Linked DNA regions of Homo sapiens. The protein of the gene in region 2 interacts with the protein of the main gene of each other region in a biochemical or structural test. Each region holds a gene or a part of one and is shown on either strand. Other genes may lie near its edges.

Evidence for each region.
Region 1: the proteins of WDR48 (region 2) and NMRAL1 form a complex in vitro, tested with the Homo sapiens proteins (one study listed by BioGRID).

What each region holds. Positions count from the first base shown.
Region 1 is NC_000016.10:4,461,027-4,464,756, forward strand, and holds the end of NMRAL1 (nmrA-like family domain-containing protein 1), read right to left. Parts: intron 2,825-3,730; coding exon 2,634-2,824; coding exon of another isoform or gene 2,616-2,633; intron 2,487-2,615; coding exon of another isoform or gene 2,451-2,486; exon of another isoform or gene 2,394-2,450; intron 934-2,393; coding exon 754-933; 3' UTR 668-753; downstream 1-667. UniProt on the Homo sapiens protein: Redox sensor protein. Undergoes restructuring and subcellular redistribution in response to changes in intracellular NADPH/NADP(+) levels.
Region 2 is NC_000003.12:39,061,760-39,069,057, reverse strand, and holds part of WDR48 (WD repeat-containing protein 48), read right to left. Parts: intron 6,009-7,298; coding exon 5,868-6,008; intron 3,248-5,867; coding exon 3,169-3,247; intron 2,511-3,168; coding exon 2,428-2,510; intron 2,313-2,427; coding exon 2,183-2,312; intron 2,102-2,182; coding exon of another isoform or gene 1,988-2,101; intron 288-1,987; coding exon 199-287; intron 1-198. UniProt on the Homo sapiens protein: Regulator of deubiquitinating complexes, which acts as a strong activator of USP1, USP12 and USP46. Enhances the USP1-mediated deubiquitination of FANCD2; USP1 being almost inactive by itself.

The DNA.
Region 1 (3,730 bases), on a different chromosome or scaffold from region 2:
TCCAATTACTGTGCGTTGTGGACCACAGCTCTGCCACATCCGATTTTCCTTTTTCCAACCTGTTTGAAGTTCACCTGTGTCCAGGATGGTACCCCAAGGCCGGCTCCTTCCAGGACAAGGATGAGGAGAGAAAGGGAGAAGCCCATATCTCCCCCGCCTCCCTGCAGAGCCTGTCTCCAGTTCACATGTGCAGATGGCCTCACTAGCTCTGGAGATGAAAGGGGTGTGTCAGAAGCTCGGCTCCTGGGGCTCCTCTGTGTCCTGTGCTATGTCCCCGTCTGTGAATGAATTTCAAATGTGGGAACAGAGGCTGCTGGTCAGAGCTGTTCTGCTAGCTGAGGTCAGAACAGGCCACTTCACACCTGTCTGACTAAACACGTTTAGGTCACTCGTCCCAGTCACCAAGTGATCCCTTCAGCCTTGGACCCTCCCTTACTGCTGTGTTGGTACAGCCCTGGAGCCACCCCTTACTGCTGTGTTGGTACAACCCCGGGTCCCCTCACTTACTGCTGTGTTGGTACAGCCCTGGACCCCCCCCCCCCGCTCCAACTTACTGCTGTGTTGGTACAGCCCCGGACCCTCCCCAACCACTTACTGTTGTGTTGGTACACAACTACCACCCCAACCCAAGTCCTGGAAGCAGAGTCCTCTTCTCCTGGAAGCCATCTGGGAGAACAATGGCTTTATTCAGATGTTGGTGCCTCTGCCCCTCTGGTGCCCCCGATCCCCACAAGGGGCCGCGAGGCGGGCAGGTCACAGCAGGTTGAAGTCCCCTTTGTGCTGTTCCAGCCACTGGTCCAGCGTCAGGGCCTTGGGGTTGAGTCTCAGGGTCAGCTCGATGTCACGGTCGGGTCTCAGGGCATAGAAACGGAACATGTTGGCCAGGTCCCGGGCACCGGGAAAGCCAAGCTTTTCGTAGTCCTCAGGAGTCATCTGGAAGCAGAGGAGCCTGTCGTGGCCGGCGTCCTCCAGTGCCCCGGGAGGTGGCGGGGCAGGGAGGCCGGATGGGCTGGGGTCTCCCGACCTGCTACACCCAGAGCCACTATTGTCTCGGTCCCTGACCCAGGTCCTCCGTACAAGGTCATTTGAAAACTTCTAAGAGCCGAAAGTTCAGAAACTGCTGCTCTCCTGAGCTGCCTGACATTGTAGATCAGTTTAAAGATTGTTCTTGGCCAGATGCTGTGGCTCATGCCCGTAATCCCTGCACTTTGGGAGGCTGAGGCAGGCAAATCTCTTGAGGCCAGGAGTTCGAGACCAGCGTGGCCAACACGATAAAACCCCGTCTCTTTCAAAAATACAAAAATTAGCCAGCCTGGTGGTAGGTGCGTGTAATCCCAGCTACTTAGGAGGCTGAGACAGGAGAATCGCTTGAAACCAGGAGGTGGAGGTTGCAGTGAGCTGAGATCACCCCACTGTACTCCAGCCTGGGCAACAAGAGTGAGACCCTGTCTCAAAAATGAATAAATAAAAAGACTATTATTTTCAGATCATGAGACGAAAATATCTCAGTCCCTTCCAAATCAGAGACCTGCCTGCATCACTTTCTTTCTCAAAAACCAAAGCTTGACCAGACACAGTGGCTCACACCTGTCATCCCAGCACTTTGGGAGGTGGAGGTGGGAGGATCGCTTGAGCCCAGGAGTTAGGCCCACCACGCCGGGCTAATTTTTTGTATTTTTAGTAGAGACGGGGTTTCACCGTGTTAGTCAGGATGGTCTCGATTTCCTGACCTTGTAATTGCCCGCCTCAGCCTCCCAAAGTGCTAGGATTACAGGTGTGAGCTACCGCGCCTGACCCAACTTTCGTCTTTTAAGGACTCCAGTGTTTCCCAGATTCTTTTTTTTTTTTGGAGTTGGAGTCTCGCTCTGTCGCCCAGTCTGGAGTGCAGTGGCATCTCGGCTCGCTGCAAACTCTGCCTCCTGAGTTCAAGCGATTCTCTTGCCTCAGCCTCCCAAGTAGCTGGGATTACAGGCGCCTGCCACCACACCCGGCTAATTTGTTTATTTTTAGTAGAGATGGGGTTTCACCCTGTTGGCCAGGCTGGTCTCAAACTCCTGACCTCAGGTGATCCACCTGCCTCGGCCTCCCAAAGTGCTGGGATTACAGGCGTGAGCTACTGCACCCAGCCTCCCAGATTCTTTAATGAGTATGTCTTACTTTCCTAATGGTAATGACAAACATTAGAAACCAGGTACCCAAGAGTCTGTCCAGTAGGCCTCCTGCCCACCCAGCCAGGCCAATGGGGGCAGGGGTCGGCCCTATCTTTCTAGCCTCTTTCCCTTTAAATCCCCTCCCACAGGGGAGGGGTCGGGTCTATCTTTCCAGACTCTTTTCTCTTCAAATTCCCTCCCACAGAGGAGCCCGGCAGGGCCTGCATTTTCACCCCTCCTTGCCTTGGCTCCTATGGCCCTCTCCTCCTGGAAGCTTTTCTCTCTATTTGGTCAAAACATCTAAGCCAGAAATTTCACTCTGTGGCCAGTTAGCTCCTGGAACAGCAGAAAATAAACGTTGACGATGAACGAATGAATTTAGATGTACTGCCCAGAGGTGTGGGCAGCCCTGGACACACCCTCCCTACGGGAGCTAGAAAGCCCTGACAAGGATGCCTGAGTCACCTGGGGCGGGAGGCCCACCTTGGCATCGTGCACGACCTTGCGGGTGTGCTTGGTGAGCAGGGCAGCGTACTCCTCGGCCGTGTGCCTGCAAGTGCTCAGCCCGATGTTCTGGCCGACGTATTTTTCTGGCATCTTCAAAAGGCTGAGCACCACAGGACCCAGGTCAGACACGGACATGCCATCCATGGGAACGTCACCTGTGGGCAAGCCTGTGGGGCAGAGACGTGAGCTGGTATATGTCCCGAGGGCAGACAGGGGCAGGGACAGAGCCCCTCTCCAAAGGGTCCAAGCTGGTTCTTCCCAGCAGTCAGCTGCACACTCCAGCACTCGGGCATAGCTAAGACAAGTCTTGCTATTTGTGGTAGCACAGAGGCAGCAGTGGAATTGAGTCAGGAAACGGGATGGAATCCGGGTACTGCCACCTAGGGCAGGCTGTTGAGGCTCTCTGAGCCTGGGTTGCTGCATTCCTAGAATGGGGCTAAGAACCTGGGCCTGCCCAGCTCTCTCAGCGCTAGGATGACAGAGAAGGGACAAAGGAAAAGGACTCTGAAAGCTGCTACAGAGAGTGTGGCTGGAGCCCAGGGTCTCCGCTAATCTGGAGGCACCAGCCTGAAGTACTCTGTCATATCCTAGATTCCTGGAAGCTGGAACGTCCACCTCTGAGTAGATACTCCAAATACCAACTCACTTACCAGGAATCCTGATTAACCAGACACCAACGGCTGGCCTAGAGCAGCACGTCCATGATAAATGCTTCATAAATCCTGAATGAATGAATGACTCGCAAACTTCCAGGCTGAGGTTTTGTAGATGGGGAGGCTGGCAACTGTCTGGGTGTGGCCTGTGGAATGCTTGGGTCCTATCCTCCTTACCTAGAGACAGGGGCCAGTGCAGCTTCCTGTTCAGATCACCTGGGAGCTCGAGGGCACAGAGCGCACAGACCGGAGCAGGAGATATCCCTGACTGCAGGTTTTTTTTTTTTTTTTTTTTTGAGATGGAGTCTCGCTCTGTCGCCCAGGCTGGAGTGCAGTGGCGCAATCTTGGCTCACCACAAGCTCCACCTCCCGGGTTCACACCATTCTCCTGCCTCAGCCTCCCGAGTAGCTGGGACTACA
Region 2 (7,298 bases):
TACAGCCTCAGCAGTCAAGGCTGCAGTGAGCCAGGATCATGATGCCACTGCACCCCAACCTGGGTGACAGAGTGAGACCCAGTCTCTAAATAAATAAATATAAAGAAGCTAATCGTAAAATACCTGCTTAAAAAATAGGAGACAAGGTATGTGAAAAATAATTTTTTTTTTTAAATAAAGAAATAAGCTCCTCCTTACCTTTTCAGTGGACCCTGATACAATGATTGTTCCCAGTTGATTCATGGCCAGGCTATAAATGGAATCTTTGTTTCCACTTAAAGAAGAAGCTATTGAGGATAAACGGAGCTAAATGTTAACAAGATCATCAGCTGTTTAGTAACTAGTCAGCAAAAACTGCAAGTTTATTCAATTTAGAAAATCTTATCTTTATAAGTCCTCTACGGAAAAGAAATCTACCTATAATGGAGATAAATCTAAACAGTATTATTATCAAAATTTACATATTTTCTGGATTTGAATATATACAAATGCTCAATATCTGATAAACTGCAGTGCCATTGAAAAGCTATCCGCTTAAATGATATGTTTAAAGCTATTCATGTGCCATAAATATGAAAAAATGTTCAATTTCAGTATTTTTCAAACACAAATCAAACCAAAAACACTGTTTCATACACCAAGACAAAAAACAAGGTAATACTTGATTGTAAAAAGAAAACAGTACAATGGAACTCTCATATATTACTTATGTGAAGATAAATAGGTACAACCTTTCAGGAAGGAATTCAGACTATAGCAAAAATCATGTTCATACTCTCAGTATCACTGAAGTAAAAAAGATGTATATGAAACTGTCTATATAGTATGAACCCAATTTTACAAACATATTAAAAAGTTGAGTAAATGAGTTACTACATGTACTGTTTAGAAAAATGTCTACTTGTAGCAAGTACTCAATACAGGTTAGCCATTATTAGTATTATTTTTATTATTATGTATTAAAAAAAAGTGTGATATCCTCTCTAAACAACTCTAAGCAAGATGTAGCAGAATCTGTATCCACTAAGCCTGGGCCCTGACCTTGTGACAACCTGCTTTTTTTTTTTTGCTTTGTTCCCTCCCATTAGTGTCTCTTTGAGGCAGGCCTTACATCCAGACTTAAAACCTAATGATGTACCATGACAGCCCCAACAGGGACCAGCTAATGAATCAGAGATAATGTACAGGTGAAAAATCAAGAACAAGGGAAAAAGAATGTTGAGACCTTCACATATTTCCTGGAAAACAAGGCAAAACAACAATCAAGAGATTATAAACACAAGTCTCCCAACTTACCCTTCTTGGCACATACTAGGCTATATTAGTAAAACTGTATTGTCTATGTCAATGTGAACACTCCACAGAGTCGTTATAAAATGGACCTATAATGTAGGGATCCAGAGAATGCAGGCCCATGTCTTCAATGTAGACTTTCCAGGTCAGGCCTAGCCAAAAATGTGCTCCTAACAGTCCCTTCTGAAACCTGGCCTAGAGGACTCTACTAGGTTGGGCCAAGCATGAAGCTCAATTTCAAATCTAGACTTGTATGAGCCTGACTTGGTAGTCTGAGATCTCTTAGCTGATGAATCATCCATGCTGTGAACATCTCTGGATTGCCTCTAGAAGCACTCTACCGTTCTGGCTCTTCTGGAATTGGCTTGATTCCTCAGGGCTGCTCTAAAAGGCAGAAAATTTGATAAACTGGCACTGGAAACCTTTTCTTTCTTTCTCCTGGGTATTTTTCATCTTGGCTATTAACTCAAAAGCTCTTAACACTTTAAAAAGTCAGAAAACCGCCTACTTTGTCAGAAAATCGCCACCTCCTTCAATAATACCTGCTGAGTGTATGGATTTGGACCAGGGAATGCTGTGGGAGATACGAAGTAGTAAGACAGTCTCCTCTACCCTGCAGGGACTTACATTTTAGCTAGGGAGCTAAGACATGCACACGTACAAAAAATAACCAGGTTATACCTGGAGAAGTTACCATTTTTAGACTGCAGTGAGGAACTAGCTCTTTGTTGTTCAATCATACTCTTGGGGGCCAGAACGCTGTAGGTAGAAGCACTCTCAAAATATGAAACACTCTCTCGATGCAAACCTATCAAAAATGTTTTATAAACCATTCTTTATTTATGTTAACTTGGATCACTTTCAAAGAAGTTTCTTTTAAACACCTTACTTGTGACAGTGTTATTTGAGGCAGTCAATGCTGTTAGAGTATTCACATCCCAAAGGAATATTTGTCTGTCCAACCCAGCTGATGCTACTAGTTCTTTATCCTTGGCATATGCTAAGGCCTTTACGTAATCCTGTAATAGAACAGACATACTATGATCTATTCTGTAGATCAGTAATAAAATGAGCCACACAAAGTACTGAGATCCCAATATTACACTAAAGACACTGAGAACTGTATTGTTTTACCTTATGTGTCCTTAATGTTGACATGCAAAATCCCTTGTGTGCATTCCATACTTTTACTGTCGTGTCAGAAGAAGCAGATATTACTAGAAGAAGCAAAGAATTAACAAACTCCTTAGTAGTATGACTTAAAACTTTGAAAACTTATCTTACAACAATGTAACATTATTTCAAACTAACATATTCTCTCTCTTACACACACAAACATACCTAAAAGCTCTTTCTAGAACCTATTGTATATTGCCTCAATTTTTTAAAATCTCAAGACACATGTTCAAAGAAAAAAATATATTTTTAAAACAAGCAGTGCAAACATTTTTAATGTTCCAGTTGAAGGCTCAACTAATGTGATTGAGAAAAATTCCTGTAACTCGGACTGCAAAACCAAGGAATGGATCTCACCAAAATTAGAACAAAAAGAGGTATTAATAAGGCTAAAAGAAGAATACATATAGTACGAGTCTATATACAGTTCAAATGAAGGCAAAACTACCCTTTGGTGTTCAGAAGACAGAAGAGCAGTTACCTTGGGGCAAGAGGGAATAACTGAAAGGGTGGCAAAGGGTGGCACAAGAGGGCTTCTAGTAATATTGTTTCTTGATTTGGGTATTCACTTTCTAAAATTGTGTTGAACTGCAATCTCGAAGTGTGTGTACTTTTCTGTATGTATGTTTCAATAAAAAAGCTTATATAAAAAACAAAAAATATATCAGAAGCCCAATAATAATCCAAAGAAATACTTACATGTTTTCCCATTACAACAGAGTACAATGTCGTTTACCCAATCAGTATGGTGTTCCATAGATGCTATATATGGATCTTGCTGAAATTAAAAGAAAAATCCTAAGAGTTTATATGAGAGAATGAAATATATTACAAATGATAGATATGGTTAAATTCTTCAATTAATGTGACATACTGCTCTAGGCATTAAAACTAACACCTGAATTCTGAGTAGAATCTCACCAAATAGGTGATGCTTCCAGATAACAGATGTAAACAGTTTTGTTTCAGGACAGTTTTACTCTTACTGAAAGCTTAGGTTTCCAGGACAAATACTTCATTTTTTTTTTTTTTGCCTTGTTAAAGTGAAGGCAACAAGCTCTGGACTAGGCACTGTGTGTGACATAAAACCCTTTAAAAAGGGTTCACTAGAAAGGACATGACTTGTAGGAATCTGTAGGCTGTGGGGATTTGAATGAGTGGTGGTGAAGGCTCAACAGCAGACAGCAGGGGCAGCAATGAGTCTGATGAGTGCACTAAGGAGCCTGGTCTGAATGCAGAGGGAGATAAACACTTCTGCTTTCAGCTTCCTACTGTTGGGTTCACCCTCTGAATTAAATGTTTTCCTCATGGTACCTACAGGCCTTCAGAGATGAAAGGAAACCCAACGGCTGAGAAAGGACAACCTGTGTCACCATTTCAATTAGGTGATTCGAGATTCTACTTCTCTTACCTGGCTTAATAACCAGGAGAGGCCTTTTAAAGAACAGTATTTAGTTACATCCTACACCTAAAACAGGCAAGTTTGAGACACTTTATGGGCAAACAGAACAGCTCTGTACAAGTCTGTTTGACAAATAATGCTATTCAATCTTGTCATAAAAGGAAGACCAGAAAAAAGATGTTTGGGGCAAGACAGGCAGATTTCCAGATTCTTCAGGTTAGTTCTTTTGGGTGTTTTTCTTAATTTGTTTGAAATACTGTGAATGCTCAGAAAGGAGACATTCCAATTCAATTATAAGTACCAAAAAGCATTTCAAAGCCAAACATAGTTTTCTTACTTTTCATGCTTTTGACATTTGGCCACCACTGCATGGTCCATTGGCTAAAGAATTCAAAGCCTGCCAGACTGAAGTTATAGGCGCATAAAGTAGTGGTTCTTTTTCTGAACTGAATATCAGACTTGTAAAACTTGCTAAAAAGACACAAACTTTTAAAAATACAAGGTCTAGCACTAGGGTTTTCAAGTTGGGCTGGGTACTAATTCTCTGTCACTTCCTAGCCACATAACCATGGGTTTCTCTGAGCCCATTTTCTCATCTATGAAAATGGATCTGGCCAGGCGCGGTGGCTCACGCCTGTAATACCAGCACTTTGGGAGGCCAAGGCAGTTGGATTATCTGAGTCTAGAAGTTTGAGACCAGCCTGACCCACATGGTGAAACCCCGTCTCTACTAAAATTATAAAAATTAGCTGGATGTGGTGGCGTGTGCCTGTAGTCCCAGCTGCTGAGGAGGCTGAGGCAGGAAAATTGATTGAAGCCAGGAGTCAAGAGGTTGCAGTGAGCCAAGATCGCGCCACTGCACTCCAGCCTGGGTGACAGAGCGAGACTCCATCTCAAAAAAAAAAAAAGAAAAAAAAGAAAATGGATCCTAATAGGTACCTTGAGGGACACTGAAAATTAAAATCACATTGGATATGAAAATGCAAAGAGCGTATGGCACATAATTAGAAGATCAATAAATGCTCTTTTTTTCTTCCCTGATTCTTCTTTTCTCTGTCATTCACAATATAGGTGTTCCAACAAAATACTAAAAGGGCTCGTTACCATTTGCCTGGGGATTTATCTTTACACATATTTAAACCCTGTTCCCTGCTTAAGAAAGGGAAATCTTTGAAGGGGAGCATGTTGTCTTCATAGTTTTAACACCAATTTTATATTATCTTTATTTATTTATTTGAGACAAGGTCTCCCTCTGTTGCCCAAGCTGGAATGCAGTGGTGTGATCACGGCTCACTCAGCCTCAACCTCCCATACTCAATCAAGTGATCCTCCCACCTCAGCTCCCCGAGTAGCTGGGACTACAGGTGTGTGCCACCATGCCCAGCTAATTTTTAAGTTTTTTTTTTTGCAGAGACAGGGTATTGTCACATTGCCCAGGCTGGTCTCGAACTCCTGGACTCAAGGAATCCTTTCACTTTGGCCTCCGAAATTGTTGGGATTGCAGGTGTGGGCCACCATGCTCAGCCTAACCTTGTATTACCTAGTTAGGCCGTGTGGGGTTTGTGAGGATCCTAATTACTTTTAAGTGAGGAAAATAAAATATTTTTTCAAGATTAATTAGAAATGTAAAAGAATATTCAATCTTTTTTTAGTAAGGTTACCAAGAGGTTGTTGGGGAACATATTTAAAGCAAAAAAATTAATTGTTGAAAGTAATCCCCCTACTAGCCAAATCACTTTGTTCCTTTGTGGCAAAGAACTCTGTAAGGCAAACCTAGTTTAGGGAGTCCTTGTCTTAGCTGAAACACTTCTGAAACTTTCCTAGGGATGGTTTTTCTCAGAGGCTTACAGAATTCTGGTTGCGATGTCTTTATAGAGTGTACCAAATAACTCAGCATTCAGAGAGATTAAATCTGAAACTGTGAAAAGTGTCATATTAGACAGTAAAAGCCATTTGTCCAGAATTTGCTGGGTACAGATTTTAATCCCTGCATTACCTTGTGCTGATTGACACTCCATATTCTTATGATAGAGTCTCGACCGGCTGTGAAAAGTCTATTTAGTGCTGGATCCAGCTGCAGAGCATTGACTCCATTTCGGTTGTACTTCTCCACTTCATCTCGAATAACATAGGAAACCTGACAAATGTGTCAACATATGCTTTTTATAAAGTACAAGCCATGCAGTAATAAAATATAGTCTACTAGTGGCCAATCTGAAACAGAAAATCCCATGTTTTCCAATATGTACTTTTTCAACCCAATACAAATTTAAATTTTACTCCTTAAAGACTAAAGGGCTGAAGAGAAGGATGGTATCAATGATAGCCTAGTCCAACATGAGTAAGTTGCTAAACTACTATAACTGCTTCCTGACTGGACTCCTTTCCCAGTCTTTAGTCCATTTTTCACAAAGCAGCTAGAGTAATTATTTAAAAATCTATCTCAGCTCTGCTCAAAAACCTCCAGTTGCTGACTACTAGACTCATGATTGGATGTAAATTCCTTAACATGGTCTCAAGTACCCTGTTTGTCTTTCTGGCCACTCATCTCTGCTCCAGGTTCTGGTGCATTGTGCCTCCAGACCATCACACATGCTGGTCCTCTCTGTTTGGAAGCTCTTCCTCCGACCTGTCTGGCTAACTCTTGTTGCAGCCTTCAGGTTTCCATTTAAACAATACTTCCTTTAGAAGGCCTTCCCTGACTTGCCAAGCAAAATGAGGTTTTGAGCTCCTATCACATACTAAACTTTTTCTTCAGGGCATTTTCCCCTACTTTGTTACTGTTGGTGACCTCTGTCTGTTCCTTGTGAAAACAGGGGATCAACTGAAAACAATTACACCTAAGAAAAAGTCAATAAGCTGGCTGGCAGCCAGAAGTAAAACTTTCTAATGTAATGAAATAAACAGTTAAAAATTAACTCAAGATGGACTAAAGACTTAAATGTTAAGACTTAAAACCATAAAAACCCTAGAAGAAAACCTAGGCAATACAATTCAGGACACAGGCATGGGCAAAGACTTCATGACTAAAACACCAAAAGCAATGGCAACAAAAGCCAAAATTGACAAATGAGATCTAATTAAACTAAAGAGCTTATGCACAGCAAAAGAAACTATCATCAGAGTGAACAGGCAACCTACAGAATGGGAGAAAATTTTTGCAATCTACCCATCTGACAAAGGGCTAATATACAGAATCTACAAAGAACTTAAACAAATGTACAACAACAACAACAACAAAAACAACCCCATCAAAAAGTGGGCAAAGGATATGAACAGACACTTCTCAAAAGAAGACATTTCTGCAGCAGACACAAGAAAAAATGCTCATCATCACTGGCCATCAGAGAAATGCAAATCAAAACCACAATGAGATACCATCTCATGCCAGTTAGAGTGGCAGTCATTAAAAAGTCAGGAAACAACA